Homo sapiens: one gene and its partners. The protein of the gene in region 2 interacts with the protein of the main gene of each other region in a pairwise test. Each region holds a gene or a part of one and is shown on either strand. Other genes may lie near its edges. The genes, in order: COBL, PACSIN1, JADE2 and SLFN12.

Region 1 (8,138 bases), on a different chromosome or scaffold from region 2:
CTATAAATATTCAGACAAACGCAAAGTAAACAGATAAAGTAGAGAGTTAAATATACTTCAAAACCTCACCAAAAGGCAATTTGCCTTTACTTGTGTTCTGAGTATTCTGTCAATTCTTATACTTCAACTGAGCTCTAAAACTCCCTAAAAGTCACATCAAGTCTGACTTGTTAGTTTTTGCACACAGCCTCTTTCCTAAAAGAACACTTTCCCCAGGAGTCAAGGAAGTCATACATCACTGTTTTAATGAAATTCCTAGTAAAAAACATACAATTTCAATCCAAGTAAAAACGTATATTTGTGTTTTTCACAAAGATAACTAATAACTACCTGTTAATAATTTAGCCAGACACAGAGTCAGTGAGTTTACATTCACCAACCTATCTCCCTTCAGTAATCTTCTAGAAGAGCGTTTGTAGGCCACAGGGTGAAATCTCGTTAATTCACTGCACCCAGTCTAGCTTGTTTCTATACAACACAAGGAGGAGTGGTAGTTTCAGCAACAGCAACAGCTTCACCACATCAGTTTGTTATCATGTGGGAAGACAGAGGCTTACTGAAAGTTTGATTTTATAATAAACGGTTGCAGAATCAGATGGAAAACAAATTTCCCTCAAGCACACTGCAAACACTGCCTTAATCTCAGGGAACAGAGGAGTAATCTCAGTGAAGAGCCAACAGAATCTGCCTGCCACCAATAATGTACTAAAGCCACAAATTTCACAGCAATATCTAACCTTTATAATTAGCAAGCATACACCTAAATTATATAAAATATTCGAAGACCTAACACCATTTATCTCCTCAGATTTGAACACAAAATTGCTTATTAAACACGTAATTCTTGTCTGAAAAAATATAAGGATATTAACATTTTCTTGATGCTTCTTCACTGAAAGTATTAACAAATGACAAAGTGAGAACAATAGAAGTTAAAAATAATATGTCTACATTTCTTGGACAAAGATGTTCGGACAAGTAAATTAGACACTGGATATGAGTGAGGGAAAGAACTGAATGCATCAGGAATAATTTCATGTTTTCCATAGCAAAAATCCTTAGTTTTACTTTGCAATTCAAATATGAAAGCCAATCAGAGCTCTGGGAAGCCCTGAGAAGGCCAGCCCTCGACTACCTCTTGCCACACAGTACCAGGCTGAAAAGAGTGCCACGCTCTTAGGGTAAGTCCTTTCACTTCTATCATTAGACTCCCTTCAAGGATCTTACAGATACTCTTTGGATACAGTTTTGCCGGCCTTTTAAATGTTCTCTCTGTCTTCATATTTATTTATAAGGTGATAGTGACAAAATAATTCAGTGTCCTTAAATAGGCTCATTTAATAGGCTATGAAAGCCACAGATTTAAAGATACCTCTGTTTCACATTTCCCTGTTATTTTGGGATGCCTATTACCATGAAAAAGGATTTCCCACATTTACTTTCTTTCTGGGGAATTTGTTTGTTCAAAGAGAATTATATAACCACCAGTAAGTGCACTGCAAAAAAAAAAAAAGAGAGAGAGAAAGAAAACTTCTTTTTAACATTCCTCAGCTTCAGGATTATTTGATTTGCTAACCTGGCTCACCTTTTCCTGGCATTAAAGGAAAACTTTAAAATTTTAAAAAGAGCCCGACTGAAAGTCTTTTACACACTTGGGCAACACGCCCGCCTATGGGCACATGGGCAGGGTGAGTCAGTGGGACACAACTGTAACAGAAAAAAAGATTTGTTGTCCCCAAAGCTGCCTCCTTCAAGTCCAGTTGCCATAGCAGAAAGTGGGCCCATTCAGTAAGCAGGTGCAGGGCTCACCCCAACCCTCATTCCATTTGCAAGACTCATACACATTTGCTCCAGGCGAGCGAGCGAGTTCGAAGGTCCCCGGCGCGCCGCGCTGAAAACTACAAAGTCCACCGGGACTGCGCGCTACCCCGCGGCCCAGCCTGCACCGCTGGCCGGGATGAGCACGGCGCACCTGGCTCGGGGTCTGAATAATGAGCAGGGCTGCTCGTCCTGTTTGAGGGAAATTACTCTTTCTGAGAGTCAAATCCTGAATGTGACGTGTAATCCCTGCACGCAAGGTGTGGGGATAGCAAACAGAAACCGGGAGAGGTTTGGGCAAAAGCGGAATCGCGAAGACAGGGATGGGCCGCCAGACTCGCGGGTCCGCTACGGATGTCTGCGCCTCAGGCCTGGCCCCACTAGGACGCCCCTTCCACTGCCAGGGGAGACCCTGGAATAAAGGCAGGGAGGGAGAGCTGCTGCCATGAAACCCTCCGGGCAATCCGAACACCTTCCGAGAACGCGGGGCCCGGGCGGCTGCGAAGCCGGGGAGCCCTCCCCTCCACGCTGCCGGGAGAGCCGATCCTGGGGCTGCCGCCGAGGCCGGGAGAGGGAAGACTTGATGGGAACCGGCCAGGGGCAAGCCCGCAGGGAAGAGGCCGGAGTCAAAGGCCGGGCGTCCCCTCGCTCCCCGCTCCACCCCTACGGCAAACACTTGGGGGGCCTGAGGAAAGCTCGGAGCTGAGTGGGGGCTGTGCTGGCGGGGACCCCCATAAGGACGCCTGCATACAAACCACCCCGCGCGAAAAGTGCGCTCCGGCCCCGGCCCGACACGGTTACCTGGGCAACGACCCGGGTGCCCAAAGTACACAGCACGCACCACCACCCAACACCAGCACCCAACACCAGCACCGCACCACCTGCTCCACCACTACCACCAGCACCCGCTGGGGCGGCAGAGAGGGCGCCCTGCCCGGGAGCGCGCGGTGCGGACGCGGGCGTCCGAGCCCAGGGAAGCCCCCTCTCCACCCCGCCCGACCGCGGGGCCGCTTACCCGGTCGGGGGCTTGGCCGCCGAGGCGCGCGGCGCGTCCATGGTGCCGGGGGCCGGGACGCGGGCGGTGCTCCGGGCCCGCCGAGTCAGGCGCTGGCTACCGCCGCCACCGCTGCCGCCCTCATTCACTTTTTCCGCGCTGACCCATCGTCCTCCCACGCGGGCCGGCGGAGGACAGCGGCGGAGCGCGGCGGACGGAAGGGGCTGGAATCGTCTCTAGCGGGCGGGGGCGCCGGGAGCGCAGGGAGGGGCTGGCGGCGGCGCGGGGCGGGGGCGCCGGGAGCAAGGTGCGCCGCGCCCCCGCCCCGGCTGCTCTGCCGCGCCCACCGGAGCGCCGCCCCCGCCCCGCCCCGCCCCGCCTGCTCAGAGTCCCGACCCGGCCCGCGGCGAGCGTCCGGGGAAGGAATCCTCCGGCACCTGGGCCCTGCACCGACACCCGCGGGTGCGGCAGAGGGCTTCTCCCCGTGCTCCTCCACCCCTGGGGGGAGCGCGACCCTCTCTGGGCGGAGTGGGGGATCCCGGGGCCGGCGCCTCCTGGCGGAGTTGGGGGAGGGGAACCACCTGGAGCCTGGAGGCCGTGCGAGGGCGAGGTGGGCGGACCAGCCCGGGAGGACTGACGTTGGAGGGTGAGAAGTGAGTGTCCGGCACCGCTCTCTGACCTTTATCCGTGCAGCAAATGTCTAGTGCGTAGGGTCGCAAAGTGGGAGTCCCGACCGGGAGCGTCAGGAACACCTGGGAACTTGTTAGAAATGCAGATTTCTGGGGCCCACCAGGTCCCACGGAATCAGAAACAGTGCGGGCTGGAGCGCGGCCTCGCTTTGCTAACAACTCACTCGCTCTAGGTGAATGCTCGCTTAAGTTTGCCAACCTGATTCACTGGGCGCTACTGTGGCACAACCCTGCCACTCCAGTGCGGGCTGGCGGGCAGATATGCAGGTCCTGCCGGCCACGCCGGGGCCCAGAGCAAGTCAGCCAGAGGTCCCTTATCTGCCCAACTTCACCTCCACTCTCTAAGATCTTGGTTGGTATGATGGGCTGACCTATAAAAGTGGCAGTTTCATATGGTTTCAATGACTCGAATAAAAGACCAACAAGAGGCCAGATCGGGCGAGCCTGATAGCGTTGGGGGTGACGCTCCCCTTGCGATCTTGTCATTGGATGAGGTATCCAGAGGCCTGCGCAGCCTTCCTCCCTCTGATCCCCTGCTTTCTCATTAACTGAAGGGGGGGCAGACCAGTCTATATGCAAAATGTGAGTCCTTACTCGTGGCTGGCAGATCTTGGGTGCTCCCTGCTCCCACCTAGAAGGTTTCCTAAGTCCCCAGGTGGCCCTGGGGCTCACTTCCCTGCAGCCCAGCCTCCCATGAGTGGAGCGCTTTCCCGGCTCAGGGCCTCTGGCTGGGATGCTGCTCCACAGTGCTCTTCCTCCTCCTTTTCATCCCGTGGTCTCCCCAAGGAGCCTTTCCTGGCCTCTCTGTCTAAAAGCACCCTGCGGAGCACAGTGGCTTACACCTGTAACCTCAGCACTCAGGGAAGCCAAGGCCGGAGGAGCAGTTGAGCTCAGGAGTCGGAGACCAGCCTGTGCAACCTGGGAGAACTTTCTACAAAATAAAAAAATTAGCGGAGCATGGTGGCACACACCTGTAATCCCAGCTACGGGGCGGGGCGGCGAGTGGGGAGCAGGCTGGACAATGGAGTGAGATCCTGTCTTAAAACACAAAATAAAAGCAGCTCTCACTCAAGCTCCTGACTGCTGCCTTGTCCTAATTTTCTTCTGAGCATTTGTCACTGTATGTGTGTGTGTATGTGTGTATGTGTATATATATATGTGTGTGTGTATATGTGTATGTGTGTATATATGTGTGTGTTTATATTTAAATGTAAGTTTATAAAGAAATGTTTACATGTAATGTGTTATATTTATAGACATGTTTATATGAATGCATAAAATTTGTATTTATGTAAACTTATAAATATGTATATACATTATATATAAATGGAATAAAAAACATAAATAACATATCCTATTCCGCATATATTTTGCTCATGTGTTTGCCATTGGTCTCCTCCCTAGCATGTGATCTTAGCAAGCGCTGGGCCTTTGTCTGATTTATCACCCCCAGCATCTAGGGCAGTGCCTAGCAGGGTGGAGTCAGTGCTCAGTAAACAAAGGGTGCACTGAATGAATGAATCTCTTCTTGCACCTTGGGTGTGGGTATTAGAGAGTCTCTCCCAAAATCTGGGGAGCCCCTCCTTGCTCTGGACACCACCATGGGAAGGGCTGCCCAGGAGGGGCCAGAGCTGAAAACTAGACTAGGCACTGTGAGCCAGACCCCATTGAAATCCCTAAGGAGAAGTCCACCTCACAGGTGACACATACTCCAAGCACCTGGCAGAGGCAGCAAGAGGAAGTATGGTGGGGACATGGAGCAAAAGAAGCCCGGAGTGACCCAGTGTCTCAGATGCTGAGCACAGATGGCAACAGGAAGCCCGAAGCAGGTGGATGGTGAAGAGTAAGAGAGCTCCTCAACATCCAGAAAAACAATGAGAAGGAGGTGACGTGCCACCTCCAGGCCAAGATGCAACTTGCTGTTCTAGGAAAAAGGCCCAGGTGACCCTAGGCCTGGACAACCTCAGATCCTTGGAAGGCCCCCAGACATCTACTCAGAAACCCAACAGGGACCAGTTTCCAGAAATGAAGTGGAGGGTTAAGCCTGGTTAGAGCTGTCAGGATGAGACACAGAGTAAAGGTCAGACTTCTGCCAGAGGGAGGAGCTTCACGCTGTGACCCAGGGCCTGCAATCTAAATGGGCCAGGACTGCCGATCACTTGTGTCAACTGTGGGGAGGGGCACAGAGCCTGGGGGGGCAGGCGGGGCCTAGGACCTGATCAGATTCTGTGCATATTGCCACCCACACTTCCCTGACTGATAAGGGCCCCAAGAGATGCAACTGTGGGGAGTTGTTTTCCAAAATTGTATAGTTCAACAGATATTTCTGAGCATCTACTGTATGCCAGCCTTTGTCTGCGGTGTGGATGTGGCCACCTCATAGGGAGGGCTAGGCAAGGAAATCAGTAACAGACAGGGCTGAGCTCTTCCAGACAGACAGTGAGAAAGAGGAATAGGTGATGGGCTGAAAGCAAAGGGCTGAGTGGGGCCTTGTAGAGGATGTCACCAAGATCAGCCTACCACTTGTCACTGAGCAGAACGCACTCCTTCCTGTGCTTACTGACTTCAGCAGAGCAAATGGCACAATCACACGCTAGGGAAACTCAAAGGGAAAGGTGTTCTTTATGGACTCTTTCCTGCACATGCTTTTAAATGTCCTTATTAAAACTGTCACTTTTTTTTTTTTTTTTTTGAGAGGGAGTCGTTCTGTTGCCCAGGCTGGAGTGCGATGGCGCAATCTCGGCTCACTGCAACCTCCACCTCTCATGTTCTAGCGATTCTCCTGCCTCAGCCTCTCAAGTAGCCAGGATTACAGGCGCCTGCCACCACGCCCGGCTAATTTTTTGTATTTTTATTAGAGATGGGGTTTCACCCTGTTGGCCAGGCTGATCTCAAACTCCTGACCTCAAGTGATCTGCCCACCTCAGCCTCCCAAAGTGCTGAGATTACAGGCATGAGCAACCACACTCAGCCACTTTTTCAGATGTCGACCATCACTAAATCATCTATATTTTATAGTGTGGCAAACATCCAGGGATGTGCTGATAAATGCTTACAAATGATATTTTTAAATTTTTTTAAAAAGAGCCCCTATTTGTAGCATTTGCCAGTTTTTGTAGTGTAAACGCACCTTGGCAGATTTCAAGCTAGGGTGTTGTAAAGTCACTGAACAGGGAGTTACAGAAGATGCAGCAAGACCGCAACTCTCCATGATTTGCCTTCCCACATGCGTGAAAGCAGAACCTTTGCCCCTTCATCCACAGAGCATGGCTGAGTGCTGCTCTTTGTCCCAGGACACCATGCTTGTGTCCTGATATGGGCTGTAATGGGTGCCCTTGGCTATAGCTCTGGACTACAGTGGCATCAGCTCTTGCCCCAAGCAGTAGGAGCTACCCTGAGACCAGGGTGTAAGGCTACTTGAAGGACATTCTCTCCTTGGTCTAACCCCATCCCCCTTCTTTGCTCCTAACTCTCCTCCCAGGCACACCTGGGGTCTCAACAGCCCCCATCGGCGTACACTCAGCTCTCCATGACTCGAGGTGGGTGCCTGCAGTCACACCAGCTGCTCTTTCTGGAGGGAAAATGAAAGGAAGAAAGCACATCAAAGACACAGATGGAAGCAGTCCAGTTTAAAGCAGGGCTTCGTAAACGTGGATACTTCTTGGGATGTTATTAAGATTTAGTTCGTGATGCAGTGAGTCTGGCTGGGACCTGAGAGTCTATGTTTCTAACAAGCTCCCAGGGAAGTGGAGACTGCTGGCCCAGGGAGCACGCTTTGAGTAGCGAGGGTTTAGGGTCAAACACAGTGAGCATCTTCGGGCCTGATCTTCCACTCACTGGTGGTATTGCCGAGAGCAAATTACTTCTCTCTAGGCTTTAGTGTCCTCCTCTCTAAAATGAGAATATTCAGGGGTGGATCCAGATTTCAAAGGGCCTGAATCTTACAAAATTGTAAGGACCTTTTAAATAAATAAAGCATACCATATGATTAATGCAAATTTAGATACCAAAAGGATCTTTATTTTGAATGTGTTATGGACCGAATTGTTTCCCCTCAAAATTCATAAGTTGAATATAACTGTAATTAGAGTAGAAACTGTCACTGTAACCAGTGTAAGGGTAATTACAGATAGAAACTTAGAAAAGTGAGTAAGTTTAAGTGAGGTCATAAGGGTGGGGGGGCCCTGATCCTATAGGGCTGGTGTCTTTATTGGGAGAGGAAAAGACAACAGAGCTCTCTCTCTTTCTTCACCAACCGCAGTGGCACCTTGATCATGGACTTCCAGCCTCTAGAACTGTGAGAAAATGAATTTTTGTTGTTTAAGCCGCGCAGTCTGTGATATTTTGTTATGGCAGCCCATGCAGTCTAACACAGATTTAGAAACTAAACCATTATGGATGCAACTTTTTTTTGTTTTGTTTTGTTTTGTTTTTGAGATGGTGTCTCACTCTTTCGCCCAGGCTGGAGTGAAGTGGCATGATCTCGGCTCACTGCAACCTCCACCCACCAGGTTCAAACAATTCTCCTGTCTCAGCCTCCCGAGTAGCTGGGACTACAGGCATTCACCACCATGACAGGCTAATTTTTTTTTGTATTTTTAGTAGAGACAGGGTTTTGCCATGTTGGCCAGGCTGGT
Region 2 (7,152 bases):
CAGACCTGTAGCCAGTTTCACTTCTCCAGGGAAGGCTTTCTACCACCAACTCATTCTTGCTGTGGGGATACGTGCAAACTTCTGAATGGGTCCCTCATCTCCTAATGGGAGACGAATGCAAAATATGTCCTGATATTGGTGAGGAGAGAAAGTAGATGATGGGACCAACAGTCACTCACTCCACAAGCCAGAGCTGGGTCTACTCTGTGCCAGGCCATGGGGCCACCGGAAACAGCACACAGACTCTGCCCCCACAGACCCCACAGCCCAGCAGGGAGAGGACACTGCATGATGGGAGGGTTCCCAGGGGAGGCAGCCAGGCTGTGGGGAGGGGATCATGGGTGGGGTTCCCAGCCCAAGCTGGGGAAGCTTCTGGAGGAAAAAGGAGTCTCAGTGGACTCCCGAGGGTGAGAGATTTGGGTGGGAAGGAAGAGGGAGAGGAGGAGACAGGAACAGCCTGTGCAAAGGCCTGCAGGTGACAGAAGCCCCACTTGCTTGAGGAACTGAAAGTAGCTCAGGGCAGCCAGGGGGCAGAGGGAGGGCAAGAAGGGAGAGTCAGCCTGGGTGTGGGAATGGTGGCAGAGCCACGTTAGGGAGACTGCATGGCTGTCAAATAGCAATGCGAGCCATTGTGGAATGAATGAATGATTGAATGACTGAATGTCAACTCTGGAAAATAGCTGGCAACCTGAGGGAGGGGGTTGAGTCCCTTCTTGGGCTTTCCCTCTATTCCCCAGGACCAAAGAGCCACCCAAACCAGACAGTTCTCTTTAGGCCCCTCCTAAGCCTGGAAATCTTGATGTCCTTCATAGACACAGGCCTGTGGCTAAGCCAGAACCCTTGTTGGCAGCCTCTTCCTCTGAAGTGGGTTTGCTCCTCCACACACTAGGGTCATGAGACCCCTGAGAGCTTGCTATGAAGACCTTAGAGGCTGAGGAAGGCCTGGCTTGGGCCTTCCCAGCTTCCCTGATGTTGACCTGGATTTTCCCAAGGGCTGGGACAGAGGCAGAGACTCTGGTCTAAAGTTGGCACCCCGGGAAGAAAGTGCCAACCCAGCGGCCTGAGGAGAGCCAGACCTTCACATCAGGCCTTCCCTCAAGCCAGGACCAGGCCTGGACACTCAAACCAGGGGCCCATAAGACCCTCTGGAGCCAGCAGGTTGCAACACTATCTCCAAAAGGCATAGCTGCCCATCAACTCCAGGCTTAGGAAGGGCCTAGCCGGGCATGATGGCTCAGGCCTGTAATCCTAGCACTTTGAGAGGCCAAGGTGGGCAGATCACCTGAGGTCAGGAGTTCGAGACCAGCCTGACCAACATGGAGAAACCCCGTCTCTACTAAAAATATAAAATTAGCCGGGTGTGGTGGTGCATGCCTGTAATTCCAGCTACTCAGGAGGCTGAGGCAGGAGAATCGCTTGAACCCGGGAGGCAGAGGTTGCGGTGAGCTGAGATCGTGCCATTGCACTCCAGCCTGGGCAACAAGAGCGAAACTCTCTCTCAAAAAAAAAAAAAAAAAAAAAAGGAAGGGCCTACTAAAGAGAACCACCTGGTTTGAGTGGAGTGGCTCTTTGGTCCTGGGGAATAGAGAGAAAGCCCAAGAAGGGGCTCGACCCCCTCCCTCAGGTTGCCAGCTATTTCCCAGAGTTTACATTCACTCATTCAATAAGTCATGCATTCCACAAGATATTTTCTTGGTGCCAAACCCTGCTTTGGTGCAGGGGCAATGACAGAGATGAATCAGATTCCCAGCCTGAAGGTACTTCTGGTCTAGAAGGAGATGAACAAGACAAATAACCCAGCCACAAGGCAGTCCAAGAACATAGGGCAGGGGGCAAGGATCTCACCTGGGGTATCAGGGAAGCTGCTGGAGGGTGATGATTTGGACTTGTGATAGAAAGGCCAGGATGGAGGATGGAAGCAAAATCACTGACAGACAGTCCTGTTTGCACCCCAGCTGTGCCAGGGGCTGGGGCAATGTGGGTTATTTATGGTTGTGCCTAGAAATAAGCGGCCATATGTGTCACTGCCTATGTGGTGCAGACCTGGGCTGTTGTGGGTAGGGGCAGCTGGGGCTTGAAGCTGGGTCTGGCCAAGCTCCCGGGTTTGCCACCATGTCTCCTACACCCTGATGACCCTTTAACCTTTTCATAGCCTCTTGTAAGGTGAAAATAAGGGGCAGAGGCAGCTCCAACAGGCAGCAAGTGGCCTGGGGCTTGCAGGGGAGGGCAGTGCCCAGCAGCCCATGGCTTCTGTATCTGCGGGGCCTTTTAGCATTATCGCCTCCTTCTTGCCTCCTCCCCCCTCCCCGCTCCCATCCCAGCTGTGGGGGAAGGGGTAGGGGACAGAAGGAAATACCTTTAACCATAAGCCAGACAGGCATCAGCTGCTGTGTTTCTCCCCAGCCCACTCTGATCCATAAATAGCCTATGCACCAAGCTGGCACCAGCCCACCCACCCCTTCTGGTAGCAGTCCAGAGACCCGGACCGCCCGGGCCCAGGCCCCAGCTTCCCAAGGAACCTATTTCCGGCGCTTTTCCTGGGGTAAGGGCCTCCGATGCCAGCTCGCTCCCCCAAGGGACCCAGCGCAGTGGCATCCTGGCACTGCCTGGGTGATGCCCGCGAACTCCGTCCCCTGAAGGCATCCCCGAACGCGCACCCGCTTCTCTCCAGGCAACTGCCCAACCCTGCCCGGGCTCTGGCCCAGGGAGATGTCAGTCCCGGCGCCCACTTCCAACACGCACTCCCTAACTGGACACCCGCACACACAACCCCCCCGCCCTCTATTCAAGGGCCAGACCTCCTACCTGGGGGCAGGAGCTCCGGGGACCATCGGCGGCGACTCGGGGCGAAGCGGGACGTCTGGGGCCCGGCCTCAAGCCCGGCCGACTTCCCGGGGGAGGAGGGGGCTGGCGCTGCCGCCGCCACCGCGTCGCTCTGGGATCTCGCCGGGGCTGCGGGAAGGAGGAAGGTCAGAGCTGAGGCGGAGAGGGGGGAAGGATGAGGAGGAGGCGTGCACCGAGCAGAGCAGATTAGAGAGGCATTTTTAGCGAGCCAATGGTAGCGCGGGCAGGGCGGCGCGGTGGCTGCGCAGGTGGACGCGCCGCGGCTGCCGGGGAGGCAGCAACCAGTTTGGCAGGCGCCGGGGGTGGCGGGTGGCGGGTGGCGGGTGGGGTCCGGCTCCCCGCTGCTTCAGCCGACCCCTGCCCCAGCAGTCTTGCCTGGCTCCCTCTTCTGGGGGCTGCCCGCGGCCCCGCGCGTGCCGGGAGCCCTCCGGTGCGCCCTCCTCCCCAGCCCTCCCAGCTGGCGCGCTCGGAGCCCGGGATGTTGCTCCCTGCCTCTCTCCCCATCTCCCCATCGCCTTGGCCTTTCCTCCTCTCCCGAGCCTCGGCGTCCCTTGGTGCGTGCGGGTGCCTGTGTGGTGGGTGTGTTGAAGACGTGCGTGTGAGCTGACTTGGGAGCGACACCCCCTGCACCACCGCCCCACTGATGCCCACCCCTGCCCGCAGCTTCTGCCCTGTGACCCCATGGGGCGGGATCGCTAACCCTCATGTCCTAGTTCCAGCAGGACCGGCTGTCGCCAAAGCAAACTCCAGGCCATGTCGTTGGAGCTCTCTAGGGGGCTTGGGGCCTAATAGGGGACCCTCAACGGCCTTCACTCTTCCGAACTTGAGCCCTGAATGCTGCCTGGAGCCTGGACGCTGCAGGGAGGAGCGGGGCACATACCTATTGAAGGCCTGTTCTGTATCAGGCACTGATGAGGGGCTGGGCTGCAGCAGAGGACAGAACAGACCAAAACTCTGCCATCTCATAGTTCACATGTGTGAGGGAAGATAGATACTCAATATCAGCAGCTAAGAGTGTTTTGTTTGGTTTTTGTTGTTGTTGTTTTGTTTTGTTTTGAGACGGAGTTTCGCTCTTGTTGCCCAGGCTGGAGTGCAATGGCACGATCTCGGCTCACCACAACCTCCGCCTCCCGGGTTCAAGCGATTCTCCTGCCTCAGCCTCCCGAGTAGCTGGGACTACAGGCGCGAGTCACCACACCCAACTAATTTTGTATTTTTAGTAGAGATGGGGTTTCTCCATGTTGGTCAGGCTGGTCTCGAACTCCCGCCCTCAGGTGATCTGCCCGCCTTGGCCTCCCAAAGTGCTGAGATTACAGGCGTGAACCACTGCGCCGGGCCAAGAGTGTATTTTAAAGTGGTATGCACAGAGTAGAAAAATAAAGCGGGAGCCAAGAGCGGTGGCTCACGCCTGTAATCCCAGCACTTTGGGAGGCCGAGGCGGGCGGAACACGAGGTCAGGAGATCGAGACCATCCTGGCTAAAACGGTGGAACCCGGTCTCTACTAAAACAAAAAATTAGCCGGGCGTGGTCGCGGGCCCCTGTAGTCCCAGCTACTCTGGAGGCTGAGGCAGGAGAATGGCGTGAACCCGGTAGGCGGAGCTTGCAGTGAGCCGAGATGGCGCCACTGCACTCCAGCCTGGGCGACAGAGCGAAACTCCATCTCAAAAAAAAAAAGGAAAGAAAAGAAAAAAATAAATAAATAAAAATAAAAATAAAGCCGGAGGAAGGGAAAAGAAGTGAGATTGCTCAGGACCAGAATGGGTCCCTGCCCTTTACATGTGTAGGGATTGCGGGGTGGGGGTGGTGGCTGAATTTGAATGTGAGCCCCTCAGGTAGGCATGCAGACTCTAGTTTGCCACAGAGCTCCCTATTGTTTGAGCCTGGGATAATCACATGTTTATATTTCCTGACTTCCCTCTCCACACACTTCACGAGAGGCACTGAAATTCATGCCCCAGTGACCCAGGGCAATGCCTGAATGCAGTATTTATTCGTGCAATAAGAATTCTCTGAGCACTGACTGCATGTTAGGTGTTGGAGCCTGGGGGAACTCAACACCTAGCTGGGGAGGCCAGATGGTAGTATGTACGTCAAGGCTGACCAGTGCGGCTAAGTGAGTGGACAATGTTCTGGAGAAGGTCAGTATAAGGCTCTGGTTTAGGCCATCCAGGAAGGCTTCCTGGAGGAGGCAGCATTCCAACAGGGTGCCAAAGGTTTACTGGGATTCTGATGAGCCAGACAGGGCAGGAGGCAGGGATGGATTGCTGGGAAAGGTCAGCAAAATGCCAGGGGACATTTGGCAAGTGGCTAGGACTGGGTCGTGGAGCACTGCTGGACACCCTCTGTGCAAGGGGTATGCTGTTTGTTTCAGGCTGGTGAAGCCCCACCCCCCACTCCCACTCCAGCAGCTCCTGGTCCTAGCTGCCCTTACCTCAACCTAGAATTTCCCAGTAGCCCCAGAAGGAGGTGTGACAAGCATGTGGGTGGGTGGGGGGAACATCGACTTCACTCAGTTGCTTGCTTGCTGGGTGAACATGGACAGGTAACTCAACCCCTTGAGATTCAGCCTTTTCATCTTAATAGCTGTGTGGCAAGTTGCTTACTTGATCTGTTCCTTGGTTCCCCGGCTTGGAAAATGGGCATGGCAACAGCACCTACCTCACAAGACAATTAGGTGAACTGCTTAGCACATACGTACTCAGTTAGTTTTGTTGTATTGATGATGATGATGATGATGATGATGATGATGGTTACACTTGCCTCATAGGGTTATTGCAATTAGACAAAGAATGTTAAGTCACCTAGTATAGTGCCTGGGACTTAGTAGGTGTGCCAAAATAATGGTATTATTATTATCATCAACTACATGCACCCCAAAATTTCTCCCTTTCTGGTCTACCACAGTGGTATGAAACACCCCTCTTTAGACAGACCTTTTTTTTTTTTCTTTTTTCAGACAGGGTCTTGCTCTTTCGACCAGGCTGGAATAAAGTGGTGCAATCACAGTTCACAGCAGCATCGACTTCCTAGGCTCAAGCAATCCTCTTTCACCTCAGTTTCCCGGATAGCTGGGACTACAGGCGCATGCCACCACACCTAGCTAATTTTTAAAAATTATTTGTAGAGACAGGGTCTCCCTATGTTGCCCAGGCTGGTCTCGAACTCTTGGGCTCAAGTGAGCCCCCCACCTCAGCCTCCCAAAGTGCAGGGATTACAGGCATGAGCCACCGTGCTTGGCCTACGAGGACTTTCTTAATGTAAAGAAGCTAATTCCCCAAGAGGCTCTTAAAAGACAATCTAGGATGGATGGACTAACAATTGGCCCCTCCCCTACTAATACATTAGCCTGGCTCAATGTGTCATCAGGAGCTTTGATGTAGACGGAATGAAGCCCAGGCCTGGAAGGTTTTGAAAAGGCAGTGAAGTCCAGAGCACAGGACACTGACTGAGAGAGGACACTCGATGTTCCTCGGCAGCAGGCATTCGGTGGAGGATGGCAAGAGCAGGAAGAGGACGTTCACAGGGGACAGGGTGTAATGCAGAGGGCACAGGGAGGACTCTGCCTTCCCAGGGGCGGAGCCACTTGGGGACAGTGTGGAAGGGCAATGGCTGGTCAGACCTGATTGGGCAGAGGTAGGGAGAGGGAGGAGGTGGGTGGGGAGAGGGGTGAGGGAGAAGACTGAGCTGGGCTTACTCCTTTAGGAGTTGAGGCTTCCCTAAAGCTGAATTCAGACCTTAGCAGCTTCAAGCCCCGAAAAAATGAGAGTGGAACACACACACACACACACACACACACACACACACACACACACACACCCCTGTCCTGTGTAATCTAAAATAAACTGTTATTTTAGGAATTGACACAACTTCCATGCTTCCTAAAATTAAACTAGCTTTCTTCTAGATTTTCTGTCGGTAAAACTTAACGTTCATCAAAGATAAACTTTCTCTCTCCCTCTCTCTCTCCTCTCACCTCTTTCTCTTATTGTTTTGTGCCCCGCTCAGAGAATAAGACTTTCTCCCTTTTGCACAGCACTTTTCACTTTTCAAAGCACTTTTCACATCTTTTTTCTCCTCAATGCACTTTTTTTTTTTTCTTTTTTCCGAGACAAAGTCTTGCTCTGTTGCCCAGGCTGGAGTGCAGTGGCACAATCTCGGCTAACAGCAGCCTCCGCCTTCCAGGTTCAAGCAATTCTCCTGCCTCAGCCTCTGGAGTAGCTGGGATTACAGGCACGCACCACCACGCTTGGCTAATTTTTGTATTTTTAGTAGAGATGGGGTTTCACCATGTTGGCCACGCTGGTCTC
Region 3 (7,332 bases), on a different chromosome or scaffold from region 2:
AAAGGACTCCAAGACTAAGGGCAGGTCTGATTGTGGCAGCCGCTGCTGAGAGGATCGGGGGATGGAGAGGTGGGCAGGGAGGCTGCAGGCAGCCCAGGTGGCAGGCTCTGGGATGTGGCGGAAACCCGGCCAGAGTGGGCAGCAAGGATGCAAATACCATGAGGGATGACAGGAAAGGAGAGATGGGGGTGGGAGCGGAGGAACCCACGACTAGAGGGAAATAGGGAGGGAGGATTCGCTTTTGAAGATGAGAGAGGGTTGAACAGATTCAAATATTGGTGGAAAAGGACCCGCAGAGGGGATGAAGAAAAGACAGACTCGTCAGCTGCAGGTGTGGGCTGGAAAAGAGCCCCTGTGGGGGAAGGAAGACAGGAGGGAAGGGAAGAGAATGGACCGAGAGGCTCGGCTGGCAGAAGTTAGAGGCCCTGGTATGAGGACAGAGGGGACGCTGTCCTGAGGGAGGCAGGGCTCAGCATGTGGGCAGCAGGTATGAGGTGGGGTGTGCGGCAGGGACTGCCCTGCTCAGCGCTATGGGATTTCTCCTGGTGGAGGGAGTGGCTCTTACTGGGTGAGGCTCTGCCAGGGTTCTGGCCTCAGTGAGGGACAAGGGCTGGGGCATAGCAGGCCAGTGCCATACAGGGAGTGAGTGAAGAAAGCAGGACAAAGAAGGGTGGAGGGCCTGGGAGACAAGTGAGCAGGGAGAGCAGTAGACTGCAGGCACGGAGCAGGATGTGGCAATTTCTGGGCTACTGACCTGGGAGCAGCTGGAGGTGGTGACTGGGCTTGGGTGAGGCAAGGGCACTAATGGGTTGGGGGAGCCCTAGAGATGGAAGGCACAGGGGCAGAAGAGCCAGAGGTCTGCAGGCTGGAGCTGCCCAGGACAAGGTTGGCTTTGGTGGGAGGCCAAAGGGACCACCATCCAGGCACTGAGGCCAGGACCCACTTCCTTCTGAGCCTTTCCCTCCTTGGGAAGTTGTCCCATATCATCCTCTGGGCAGGTGTGTGTCTCAGAGCCGCCTCCACCCTCTTGGCCTCCTCCTCAGGCCAGGTCAGGCTCCCAAATAAACTCCTGGTGACCAGAGCCAGAGCCACAAGCAGCAAGTCCCTGCACAGCCTGCTTGTCAGCACGGTTGCTAGGGGACACCAGCCGGCACTTGTCGGGCTGATCAACAGTGCTGCGATTTTTGTCAGCCGTAAATAACTCTGGGAGGCTGCAGTGGCCATGCCTTCCGAGCGTCCGCTGGGGCCGAGGCCCAAGGCTGAAATTTTAGGAAAGCACATCTGGTTGACCATAAAATGGGATTTCATGCCGGCAGCAGCCCCGGCTCCTGTTTCTCTCAGCAAAACCCCTGCCTGGCTGAGGAGGAACGAATCAATCTGGGAGGATGCTGGGTTCCCAGGCCCTAGCACTGGGCCTGCCCTTTTGGTCCTCTGTGGAGCCCACCCTCAGAGCGCACGGGCTGGCCTCCCTTCTTCTAAGAGCCAAATGCTGAGGGGCCAGGACAGTAACAACAATCACGGCCAACAATGGAGGGCACTGTGCTAAGCTTTGTCCCCCACATGCACTGTGACCCCAAGGTCAGTCTGATCCTTATTCCCATTTTACAGACAAAGAAACTGAAACTCAGAGAAGTAGAAACTGAAACAAAGAAGGTATAGAGCTGGGAGTGCAGGAACTGGATGCAAAGTCAGGCTACCAAGGCCTCGACCTCAAGCCCTGCCCCATCTTCCGATGATTCCTGCCCAGGCTGGCTTAGTGCCCAGTTACAGGCTGGATACTCCCGGCTGCTGGCACTGGGCCACGGTCCGAGACTGGGCCCGCTGGCCAGGCCACCAACCACCATGGGCCTTTGCAGAAAGCCTGCCCCGTGGCAGGGTTCTTGTCGCTGTTCATTCACCCAAGTTGCAAATGTGTGACCTGGAAAGGCCTTGAGGCTGGGCCGCTGATGGGGGTCAGCTTGGCTCATGGTTGTCCCTCCTCGGCCCTGCCAGGGCTGTGCATGCCCCTGCCCTCATTGAAGCTGGTGCCCGCCAGCCCAGCTTGGTGGCTGCTCAGAAAGCAGCATTTGACAGGGCCCCCTGAGCCGTAAGAGGCTGCACATACTTCAAAATTGGCCCTGCTTCCTCTTCCCAGAGGAGGAGTGGGACGGTTCACACCTGACTCTGGAGTGTTCTGGCTCCCACTGCAGGAGTCTCTGCAGCAGCTCTCATTCCCCGGAACCCCAGAGCCCGCCAACCTCAGCCCCAGGCTCCACCTGAACCAGCCAACACTGGGGTGGGAAGATTAGGGGACTGAAAAAGGGATGCTTTTGCCCAGGAAATTTACAGAATAGAGAATAAGCCAACAACTCCTTTTCTGCCCCCGACTGAGGTCCAAATTCAAGCTCAAAACCCTTGGAATGGAGTTCCTCTAAGACTTCCTGTTATTCGTCTCTCCGAGCCCCAGTTTCCTCATCTGCTCAGCAGGGCTGGGAGGATCTTCCTCAAGTCTCTTTTTCCAGGATGATGACTACATAAGTGAGTCAAGCCCTTGACCTCCCTGGACAACCCAGCCAGGGACAGACACATGGGCTGACCAGCACAGAACAGAGAGGTCAGTTCTGAGGGGTTGTTTGGGAAACAGTAGGAGTAAAAGCAGGTGTTTCCACTGGAGATCCAGCGGGTGGAGACATGGTGGCCTAAAGAAGACTCTGGAAGCAGCTTCGGTCCCAGAAGGTCTTACACCTGATGCCCCTGCCACATGTGACAGGAGGCTGGGCTGGCCAGGAGGTGGTGGCTGCAATGTAGGTAGCCTTGCCCTCTGTCCTGGCTGGAGCCAGGGACATCTGGTTCCTCCCACCTCCACCTCTTCCTTCTGGCCTGGTGGCAAGCTGGCTGCCAGGCAGTGAGGGCTCTCTGGGGGCAATAGGTCATTTCCCTCTTGAGCAGGCAGCGCAGATGAGTGGGAAGGAGGGGATTGGGGAAGCTGGGTCCAGTGCCCCTTCCCTGACAGTACAACACCCCTGGAGATGTTCTACCCATTTTACAGCCTTGCCCACTGCGATGCAGATAAGAAAAGCAGGCGCCTTGGGTCACACAACGTTCCCTGCATGCTCCTGCCCAGGGCTATTTCCTGACAGGACCCAGGGAGAGGGTGAGCATGTATGTCTGAACCCAGGGGAGACACTGTGACACGGTCCCATATGCTCTGGAACCCTAGAAATGTCCCAGAGAGGAGAGACCAGAACAGCCTGTGGGGTTCAGAGGACTGGAAAAGGATCCAGAAATCCTGCTTCATTTCACTCAGCCCCCTGGACCAAGCCACCGTCACCTGTTTCCCAGCACACAGCTGGGGGTGGTTTTCAGCCAGCCCACCCATTCCAGACTCTGGGACTTCTCCTCCAGGGAGTGTTGGGTGCAAGTCCCAGCCACAGTATGTCAGTCCCTCCTTAGCACTTCTGCAGCTTCCAGACACACTGTGATCCACCAGCCCAGTCTCGTGCGATCCACCAGCCCCTTTCACCTCTTCCTTCCACTCCACCGTTCCTTGAGTCCACCCTGTCTCCTTCGTGCCTCTGTTCTGTTTGCCCAGCACCCCACGGAGCCGCGTTTACCCATCTACCCTGCCCTGGCCCGGCACGTGCCTGTTTGGCTGCTCCTGGCTCTTGATGCCCCTGGCTTTCAGCATGGGTTACGGGGACAGCTTGGGAAGCTCCAGTTCCTCCTCTGCCTCAGATTCTCAATGCAAGCTCATGTGTTAGGACCAGGCGGGGCCCACAGAGGCAAGCAAGTGCCAGAAGCCTAGGTCCTCGCCCTAGCTCTGGTGCTCTCAGCCTCATGACCTTGGCAGGGCCCCCACCATTCACCAGGCCTGTGACAGGGCTAGGACAAGAGGGACTCGGAGACTCAAGAACTGGACTCTTCTCTGTTCTGTAAAGTGTCAGTCACCCCCATACTCTTTGGGACCTGAAAGCCCTCAGCCCCTTGGCAGGCTCCTGCAGCAGGGCCGGTCCACCAGAGCTCACAGTTTGAGTCCTGGTGAGTCCTAGCTGCTCCAGGGCAGTGAGTGTGGCATGGAAAGGACTCCTGGACCCACCAGGCAGGGGGTGGGCAGGCGGCATGGGGACTCACCCTCTCTAGGTCCTGCCGCAGATGGGTGAAGAGCTTCAGGCGGCGGTAGAGGACGTCCTGCTCCTGCTGGGCCAGGTTGTCCACCTCGTCGGTCTTGGGGGTCAGCAGCGGCTGGTTGGCATTGGCTTTCCTCTTCAGCTTCCAGTACTGGTAGATGAAGTCGACCAGTGCCTCAGCCAGGTCCAGCCGCTCAGCCACCTCAGCCGGCTCCACCAGCTCGTAGAAGTCCTCCTCTAGCTGCTGCAGCCGCTGCTTGCGCAGGGTCACCTTTTCCAGGTCCTCGCCAGCCTGGCTGGGTTCCGTGGGCTCAGATGTGGGCTCATTACGTGGGCCCCCGTCACTGTGCTCCTGGCAGAATGACTTGAACTTGACCTCATCGTTGTCTGCTAATATAGTCCGCATTTCCAGGCCGTGGTCAAAGGCGCATGTGACATGGAACGCTGTGACGCAGGAAGGCATGGAACACTGAGGGGAAAGGAGGGGCAGGATCAGACATGGAGGGAGCCTGGTGGGAGGGGAGAAGACAGAGGGGCTTCCCCCAGGGCTCTACTGAGAATGCGCAATGCTGGAGAGAACCTAAACAGAATGGCATGGGCTCCCAACCTCCTGTGCAGGATGGGAGTTACGGCAGGGGAGGAGGAGGAGCTCTGGGGTGCCTGGAAAGGTAACCCATTCAACACCACATGCTTTGGGGAAGTCAATCAGAAGACGGTTGAGAAACACCTCTGGGGACAAGCTGCATTTTTTTTTTTTTGAGACAGAGTCTCACTCTGTTGCTAGGCTGGAGTGCAGTGGTTCCATCTCACCGCAACCTCCGCTTCCCAGGTTCAAGCGATTCTCCTGCCTCAGCCTCCCAAGTAGCTAGGGCTACAGGCATGCACCACCTAGTTTTTGTATTTTTAGAGATGAGGTTTCGCCATGTTGGCCAGGCTGGTCTCGAACTCCTGACCTCAGGTGATCCACCTGCCTCGGCCTCCCAAAGTGCTGGGATTACAGGCGTGAGCCACCGTGCCTGGCCTCAAGCTGCATTTTTGTGTGGGCAAAATGACTTTGGCATCACAGAGCATCAAGAGAAAGGCTGATGATGGGTCACTGGCTCATCTAAGATGGGGACTGTGGTCCCCTTTTTGTCCTCTGGGAAGAGGGGCTGGACTTAGTCCCCTTCCCTCTCCTTTCATCCAGACAGCTTGAGGCCTGACCCTCTCTCTTAGCCTTGGATGATGATAACTGTGTCAGCAATCACGCACCCAACTATTATGACTGCTGATGCTGCACTCACAAATCCTTTTGAAGGTCCGTGGATGGGTGAAGGCACAACTAACGTTTACAATGACAACTCTGTTCCTAAAAGATGAGGGGGACAAAGGATGACTCCCCCCTGCACTCCCAAACTATAGACCTGAGGCATCAACATCCCTTGGGAGCTTGTTAGAAATGCAAGTTCTCAGCTTCACTCCAGACCTACTGAGTCAGAGCCTCTCAGGAGTAGGCCCAGCAGTCTATGTTTACCAAGCCCTCCAGGTAATTCTGACGCATGCTAGACTTTGGGAATAGGCTTTGCTAAAGACAGACTGGTACAGCCCTTCCAGTGTCAGGACAGTCTATTAGCTTAGCTAGATGAGAAGTTTGATTCCTAACCCCTAACGCGTCAAATTCAATGTCAGAAGTGAGGCTAATGTATTCATCAAGCCCCAAGACACTTGCTTTCAGGGAAAGCCAGAGTTCTCAGCACTCCAATGGGGTGGTGAGCCTTGGTTCCCCGGGTCTGTTCCCACTCCCTAGAAGACCAGGGGATGGAGAAATGCTCCCCAACAGGTGCGATTCTGACTCTGGCCCCAGTCCCACACCCCTCTGGGGCCCATCAGTCTGCAGCCCCATGGAGGGGAGAAGGTGGTGGCAGCTGCTGTCTGAGGCCCCAAGCATGCCTCTCAGCCAGCTCCTGGCAGCAGGAGGTGAAGTAGGCCACATACCTGGATGCAGGTGCCTGTGCATTCCTTGCAGAGGCTGCAGGACAGAGCCCAGCGGCTGGCTGGGATATGCGAGATCTTGGTGATGGGCTCCATCTTCTCTGGGCAGCCGATGCTGACCTGGGCAGGACACAGGGGGCTGCATCATTCCTCTCATCCCCAGCCTGCCTCCAGGGATCTCCAAAATGGGGGTTTGTCTGCTGAAACTAGGTGGTGGGCAGACAGGGCAGTGGCTGAGCCCCTGAATCCCAAGTCCCTCCTGACACCAAACAAGCATGGCTCAAAGGCCGGAATTCCTCCTCACTCTCCCAAGCTCACCACTGGATGAGTGTGTTAGTGTGTGCTCATCTGAGACTAATCTTAAATTGTCTGTGAATGTGTGAGTGTGCCGTCAGTGTGTGTAGTTGACTGTGTGTATGTGCTTAAGACTGCGTGGGCCTTGACAGACAGGTGCTTTGGTGTGCGCATAGGTACATGCAAGATCCTCCTTCTTTCTGCACTCAGGCCTTTGTTAATAACATCTTCAGAGTTCTTGTTACGATTTGTATTTGTATTACTTATTTTTCTAGGCACCAAGAAAAGCCTCATTGTGGGATCTCCTCTTGAAGGTCTTTAGGGCTCTCCTGGGGATATGCCTTTGCTGAGCCCTTCCTATGGGGACAGCCCTACAACTATGCCCAAGTCTACTGGGCAGAGACCACCCCACAGCCCAGAGGCAGGGCACATTTGTCTCCCCATTGCTAATGCCTGAGGATGGAAAAAGCAATTCTCTCCAAAGGTCCTGAGCCAAAGGGTCTTCATGATGGAGTCCCTGTTGGTTCTGTCTCTGCCATGCCCAGCCCAGGGTACACTCAGAGGTGGTCCCAGTCTTCAACATGCTGATCTGCAAGCAAGTGCCTACTGCTGACACAAACAACTGTTATCACAGAAGCCCGCATTGTGGGCTTCAGACTGTGAGCCCAGGAAGGAGAGTGCCACTTATGGACAGGGCCACCTGGCTTGCTTCTGGGCACAGGCAACACTGGAGTGGGGCCTCAATCTGAGTCAGTCCACACAGCAGGGCTGGGGCTGAAACTCTGGTGCATTTCAACATTTCACATTTCAAATAAAATGGCTGGCCTGCCAGGCACCCAGGACCTCTGCTAACTCACTGACTCTGGACCCAGCCTGTTGCCCGTGGCACTCCCACATGGACTCAGAAACACACCCACCCCACCATCCTAGCCGCAGCCATAGCAGCAGGCCCACTAGCCAA
Region 4 (7,332 bases), on a different chromosome or scaffold from region 2:
CAATTTTTCTTTCCGATCAAGTTCTGTTCTATCAAAAAAAACCCCGGCCAAGGCCTTCATGTTATTTTCTTCTTGTATATCAACACAGGGCCTCTTTGCCAGCAATTCTGGTCTTAAATACAATCTCCCTCTAGTCTTTTTCATGTCTTTGAGGAACTCCAGTGCAGCAGTGGCATTCATGACTTTTGCAGATGTTATATCTCTTTTGTACAAATTGGAGCTCAAGGTGGTAATCCGCAGACCAGAGGTGTTCAAGCTCCATGACTTCACAAAAATCAGAAAGTAGTTACCATTCTGCATGAAGTCTAAGTACTCAGGAACAAATAACAGAATGTTACTAAAAGAATTTTCCAAATCTAGTCCTATTCCATCTTTTGTATAACTATAGTCTTCATTCTCAATTTCAGCCTTGATCACTCCCCCTCCAGAATTGAGCAGAGCACACATAGCTCGTGAGACACTTTCATTCTGCTTTTTTCTCAGTTTACAATCCTTCATTTTTTTCCTACTGTTCTCTCCAAGAGTGACTCTTCCCACATCTAGAACCAACTCGGCATAATTCGTTTCCAAATCAACACTGATGTTCATTTTCCCAGCAGCTATGCAGTGTCCAAGCAGAAATTCTTTTCTGTAAAATAGACAGAGCCATTAGAATAGGACCTGAACTAGAAAGATAGCAAATTCTGTATTATGAGGCAAATGCAAAAAAATCCTGTGCTGTATATATTCTACTAGACTGGTAAGTATATGGATATGAAGAGACTGGCAAATTTTGAGCTAAGACCGCAATAATTTATACTCCTACTGAATTTTCAAATTTGTTACTATAGTTCTATATAATGTATTCTAATTATGTAATCTCTTTATCCGCCTTTTTTCTCCTTTCTAGTCCCTAATATTGTACAACCTGTTTTCTCTCTCCTTTTCTTAAACAACCCCTGGAGTGAGTCTATGTTTTTATCTTCTCAGTGAACCAGGCTTTAGTTATACATATTATTTCTACTTTTCTTTTTATTTTAATAATTTCAGCTTTTACCTTAATTATCTCCATTTATGGGTATAAATCTTTTGGAAGATTTCCCGTTAAGGTCTAATGACATCCAACATGTCATGTTAATTATTTTTCCTTCTTATAAGAATGAAATAGATTTATAAATTTTGGCCATTGATCTTAAGCAAAGTGGGCTAAGTCATTGTGCCCTTTTTAAATCTAATATCCACATATTTTCAATAAGGAAAATTCTTATATACAAAACACCTGTGCTATGGTTTGAATGTTTGTGTTCCCCCAAAATTCATATGTTGAAATTATAACTCCTGAGGTGATGAGGTTTTTGGGAAGTGATCAGGTTATGAGGGTGAAGCCCTCATGAATGAGATTAGTACTCTCCTAAAAGGGACCCCGGAACACTAGCTCATCCCTTCCACTATGTGAGAACACAGCAATAAGTAGGCAGTCTGCGACAGGAAAAGGGCCCTCACCAGAATCCAACAGTGCTGGCACCTTAATCTTAAACTTCCCAGCCTCCAGAACTGTGAGTCATAAATTTCTGTTATTTGTAAGCCACCCAGCTTGCGGTATTTTGTTATGGCGGCCTAAACAAACTAAGACATTGTGCTTTAGTCTATGTATCCCTAATCCATTAGCTCTGTTCCCTTAAAATCTATTAGGATCACTGCTTTGCTCTAAATGGAAACTTTTAAGTTAAGAAGTGTAACTTAAGTTTAACTTTTTTTTAAGTGTAACTTAAGTGTAACTTTTTAAGTTAAGAAGTGTGACTTAAGTTTAACTATTTTTAAATGTAACAAGTGTAACTTTTAAGTTAAGAAGTGTGACTTAAGTTTAACTTTTTTTTAAAGTGTAATTTAAGTGTAACTTTTAAGTTAAGAAGTGTGACAAGTTTAACTTTTTAAAAAAAGTGTAATTTATGTGTAACTTTTAAGTTAAGAAGTATGACTTAAGTTTAACTTTTTTAAAAGTGGAATTTAAGTGTAACTTTTAAGTTAAGAAGTGTGACTTAAGTTTAACTTTTAAGTGTAACTTAAGTGTAACTTTTAAGTTAAGTTAATAAGTGTAACTTAAGAAGTGTAGGTTTTCCGAGTGGCATAGAGACAATTGAGAATAAAGTCCATCATAGGTAGTAATTGCTATACTAGAAAAGGAATGTAAAGGGGGTCAGAATATTCCTGTCCACAGCTGGACCAATATCATGCAGATACTCAGCTAAGGTTGTGGATACCACCTGTGTCCATATAAATTCCTGATCACATGTAAACAATGTTAACATTAGAGCCCCAAACCATTTGGACAGTTGGGGTTGAATCCTTTAGTTCTTTGTCCATGTTTTCTCTTAGCTCTTTGAAGATACTTAAGACAGTGCCTGTTTTTTATTTTATTAATTTATAAATAAAATCCTATATATTGATCATGTACAATGTGTTTTTTTGAAACTTGTATATATTGTGGAATGGCTATGTTGAGCCAACTACCATATACATTACTTCACATACTTATCATTTTTTGTGGTGAACATTGCTACTATTTTAGCAACTTTCAAGAATACAGGCCCAGCACAGTGGCTCATGCCTATAATCCAAGCAGTTTGGGAGACTGAAGTGGGAGGATCACTTGAAGCCAAGAGTTCAAGACCAGCCTAGACAACAAAACAAGACCACATCTCTACAGAAAAGTAAAATAAAATAAGAATTGGCTTGGCACAGTGGTTTGTGCCTATGGTCTCAGCTACTTAAAAGGCTGAGGTGGGAGGATCACTTGAATCCAGGAGTCCAAGGCTGCAGTAAGCGATGATCATGGCACTGCACTCTAGCTTGGGCAACAGAGAAAGACCCTGTCTCCAAATAAATAAATACATAATAAAGAATACAACATATTGTTAACTATAGTAATCATATTGTACAATAGAGCTCTTGAACTTATTCCTCCTATCTAACTGACATTTTGTAACCTTTAACCAACATTTCCCCAAACCCCATCTTCCCCCAGTAACCACTATTCTACTCTATACTTCTATGAGTTTAACTTTGATAGATTCTACAAATAAGTGAAATCATGCAGTATTTGTCTGTCTCTACTTGGCTTATTTCACTTAACATAAAGTCCTCCAGATTCATCCATGTTATCAAAAATGACAGGATTTCCTTCTTTTTCTTAAGGCTAATTAGTATTTTATTATCTATATGTACCACTTTTTCTTTATCCATTCATCTGTTGGTGAACACTTAGGTTGCTTCCATATCTTGCCTATTGTGAATAATGCTGCAATAGACATGAGAGTACAGATATCTCTTTGATAGACTGATTTCATTCCCTCTGGATATTTATCCAGGAGTGAGGTTGCTGAATCATATGGTGGTTCTTTTTCTTTTCTTTTCTTTTCTTTTTTTTTTTTTTTTTTTTTTTTTTCAGAAACCTCCATACTATTTTCCATAATGGCTAAGCTAGTTTAAATTCCTACCAATAGTGTGCAATGGTTCTCTTTTCTCTACACCATCTCTTTTTATCTCTTGTCTTTTTTATAATAGCCATTTTAACATGTGTGAGGTGATTTCTCATTGTGGTTTTAATTTGCATTTTCCTGATGATTAGTAATGTTGAGCATTATTTCATATATCTGTTGTCCATTAGAATGTCTTCTCTTGAGAAATGTCTATTCAGATCCTTTGCCCATTTTTTAATCTGTTTTTTTTTCTTACTATTGAGTTGTTTGGGTTTCTTATATATTTTGGATATTAACCTCTTATCAGATGTATGGTTTACAAATGTTTTCTTTCATTCTGTAGCCTATTCTTTTACTCTGTTGATTTTTTCCTTTACTGTGCAGAAGCTTTTTGGTTTGATGTAATCCCATTTGTCTACATTTGCTTTCATTGCCTGTCCGCCATTGGGATGACATCCAAAACATCACTGCCCAGGCCAATGTCTTGGATCTTTTTCATATATTTTCTTCTAGTAGTTTTATAATTTCAGCTATTACATCTAAGTCTTTAATCCATGTTGAGTTGATTTTTGTATTTGGTGTGAGATGAGGGTCTAACTTCATTTTCTGCATGTGGATATCAAGAACGTTATTTTAAAATCTTTGTCTAATATGTCTGATGTCTGGCCTTCCTCAGAGATGTGTTCTGCCAATTTACTTTCTTCTTTTGAATAGGTCATATTTTTCTGTTGTGTGTATGCTTTATGAATTTTTGTTGGAAATTGGACATTTGAAAAAACAGCGATCTCTCACAGTCTTTGCAGACAAATGCTATGGCAAGGCAAACCTTCAGTGATGGGCTAAGTATACTCTGATCTTAGGGATCAGCTCAAGGAAAAAGCTTAAGGTCTTCTCAGGTCTTTTCTGAGCATTTATCCTGCCTGGATTGAGCGGGGCTTTCTTGATTCCTCTACATACATGCCTGCTTTTGAATGTCTTAATTTCCCAAAGAATCTCACCCCAGCTCATCTTCTGAGCCTTAGATGGTTATTCTATGTCTCTAGCTATAATCTCTTGCCTAAGACATCTGGGGGTCTATAGTCTTCTTGCAGCTTTCCTGAGCAGTGGCTGTCACTTCTCCTCACCTGAGATCTGAGTTAGGGGATACAGAAATGAATCCTTCAGGCAGTCCCCAGACAGGTTACAACATTGAAAATAAGTTTTACTATGCCCCACCAATTCCAGGGAGGAAACTAGGAGCAGTGATGCTGCCTCCTCAAGACTAAGACCTTGCCATGCAGGGCAAAAACTTGGGCAAGGGTGAGTAAAAACACCATGAAATTTCCTACAGTTTTGAATGCTGCTTTTCCTTGATTGGGCATTCATTTAGTTGCAACAGATCTTTGTTGTTAGTTCAGCCAGTTTTGGGTTGCTTTTGATGTTTCCATGGAGAAACAGAGTTGAAGCTTCCTAATCCACTATTTTTCTGACATCATTCCTGTCACCATTTCTTTATATTAAACGCAATTCGATAATATTTTTAAGATTTTGCACCCATGATGTCCCTTTCTCCTATTCTTGTTGACAGACAATGCAATCAATAGCTTCACAAAATGAGTTGAGGATGTGAGCTGTATTTCTATTATTTCACATTTTACCCAACATGAGGACCTTTTTGCAGTGGGAGAGTTGGTCATGGTTGGCCATACTGCCCAAAACGAAAATATACTATTTGAATCTTGCTTTTCCATGTATCAATATAGTATATACAACAAGTTTTGCAAAAATAATAATTAGCTATTCTTTAAAAACCTTATTAACTGCATAATTTCATACATGGTATTAATGTACCATTATTTAACTATTACCTTACAACTGAACATTGAAGTTGCTTTCAATCATTCGATATAATTATACTAGAATCTTGACTCAGTTATTTCAATGTTTGGGTATGCTAATCACACAGTCTAATTTTCATTGAGTCTAAGAGTGCCCTGGCAAAGCACTTCAATTATATATACAGATACGGTTCAGATATATACAAAGATGGTTAAATCGAGTATGGGAGGCCAGAACATGTAGACAGAAAAGAAGCCAGATTTCAGGATATAAGAAATGGAACCTTGAAGGGGAAAAATTATGTAAGAGAAGAAAGAGTCTGAATCTGTGGAAATAAAGGTTCATGGTGAAACATAAGGTTATATTTGAACCTGTGCCTTAGGTACATAATTAAGCTGAAATTATGTAAGTATATAGAGTGTATATATGTACACACAGAGAGAGACAGAAGTTTGTAAAAGTTAAATTACTGTATCAAGTGACAAAAACTTCAAAGATTTTGATATATATTATCAAATACTTTCCCAAATAATTGTATCAGAATTATCGCTAGCAAATTTATCTTAGTGGTGATTACAGCACTTTGCCTTGAACCTTTTGGGGGGAAGAGGATATGGTATAAAAGCTACTGGAAAGCATCTTAGTGGGGATTACAGAACTTTGGCCTGTACCTTTTGCGGGGAAGAGGATGTGGTCTAAAAGCTGTTAGAAAGCATCTTAGTGGGGATTACAGAACTTTTCCCCTGTAATTTTTGGGGGTAAGAGGATGTGGTCTAAAAGCTATTAGAAAGCAGCATCTTTCCCTCAGTGTTTCCTGAAAACTCAGAGAGAACAAAGAGAGGCTGCCTTCTAAGAGATATTGGACCTAGCATTCATTCAAATAGGCTCCCTGGGCCTGGGTCCATAGAAGAAAGCATTTGCATATGACCCAGGGAGATTCCAAAAAAAGAGAACCTAAGTGGGGAGGACCTGACTCCTGGTAGTTGAACAAGAGTGAAGCCAGGTAAGCACAATCATTGAAGTTTAAATTTAAAACTCAATAGTAGTCTCAATGTGGCATAATTATGCTAGAAAGCAGAGGAAGATGTATATCTCTGCCATGCTGAGCTTTCTCCTTAGTATTATAGCACAATTAGTGTTCTTTAGACCCAATTTCTTCATATTTCTTGCACATGAGGCTGCCCCAAAGGCAAGTCCACCTTCCCTGTTGACCAGACAGAAGAGATTCTCCATCTCTACCCACAAAGGCTGCAGGAGAATCAGTTCCACTTCTACCCAGGCGCACAGCCCCAGCCCTACAATTTTCTGGTAATGCCTCACCAAGCAGCCTCTGCTCTGCTCCCCGATTCTTTTTTGCAGCCTCTCTAACTAGAGTCTTGTCCCCTTTCCTCTTAGCCCACCTTTCTGCACTGTCTACATCAGGCTGGGCTCTGTGTAAACTTTTTTGCCTAACCCACCATACACAGAAGGGGACAGAAATCACATCTCACCCTCAGATTGATTAAGGAGGGTGCTCATACCACTGAGAAACTTGGAACCCATGGGAGCTGCAGTTGAGCCACCTTATAGAGGACCCAGCGCTTGTGAACTAGCCTGGGATCCCGGTCACCCCAGTCCAACATCTGCAGCTGTGTAAAACTTTCCATAGTTGAAAATCACTGCCTTCAAGCATACATCTGGGACAAAACCCTTAAAAAATGAGCTGGGGATTGAGCTTACCAAATCCCTAGGGCCTAAAACTTACTGGCCTCCCTTAAACCTTGGGTCTAGGTTTACAGGTTAGATGTTTCCACTGAAATCCTTTATACTTTTGACTATAGGGGAAATTCTATCAGACCTGAACTCACTATTTAGGCTTTGTTGTTGGCTATCTTTAATGGGAAAGGAGACAGCATTCAGATCTCCTTAGAGTTATGTCAGAACAGCAGGTTAGTAGGAACTGCCCACAGGGTGGGACAGAAGTTGTAAGAGCTACCTCCTGGGAAACAAAAATCATGCAACACTCTTTGCCCTCCTAGGATGTCACTTTGCATTTAGTTCAGGACAGCACTGCTCT

Evidence for each region.
Region 1: the proteins of PACSIN1 (region 2) and COBL interact in binary tests that used the Homo sapiens proteins (3 or more experiments, as listed by UniProt).
Region 3: the proteins of PACSIN1 (region 2) and JADE2 interact in a two-hybrid assay, tested with the Homo sapiens proteins (2 studies listed by BioGRID and IntAct).
Region 4: the proteins of PACSIN1 (region 2) and SLFN12 interact in binary tests that used the Homo sapiens proteins (3 or more experiments, as listed by UniProt).

The regions. Positions count from the first base shown.
Region 1 is NC_000007.14:51,313,760-51,321,897, forward strand, and holds the start of COBL (protein cordon-bleu), read right to left. Parts: upstream 3,051-8,138; 5' UTR 2,875-3,050; coding exon 2,834-2,874; intron 1-2,833.
Region 2 is NC_000006.12:34,461,924-34,469,075, reverse strand, and holds the start of PACSIN1 (protein kinase C and casein kinase substrate in neurons protein 1), read right to left. Parts: upstream 3,001-7,152; 5' UTR 2,806-3,000; intron 1-2,805. UniProt on the Homo sapiens protein: Plays a role in the reorganization of the microtubule cytoskeleton via its interaction with MAPT; this decreases microtubule stability and inhibits MAPT-induced microtubule polymerization.
Region 3 is NC_000005.10:134,563,359-134,570,690, reverse strand, and holds part of JADE2 (E3 ubiquitin-protein ligase Jade-2), read right to left. Parts: intron 6,198-7,332; coding exon 6,081-6,197; intron 4,576-6,080; coding exon 4,111-4,575; intron 1-4,110. UniProt on the Homo sapiens protein: Scaffold subunit of some HBO1 complexes, which have a histone H4 acetyltransferase activity. Acts as an E3 ubiquitin-protein ligase mediating the ubiquitination and subsequent proteasomal degradation of target protein histone demethylase KDM1A.
Region 4 is NC_000017.11:35,422,441-35,429,772, forward strand, and holds part of SLFN12 (ribonuclease SLFN12), read right to left. Parts: intron 629-7,332; 5' UTR 589-628; coding exon 1-588. UniProt on the Homo sapiens protein: Ribonuclease which is part of an E2/17beta-estradiol-induced pro-apoptotic signaling pathway.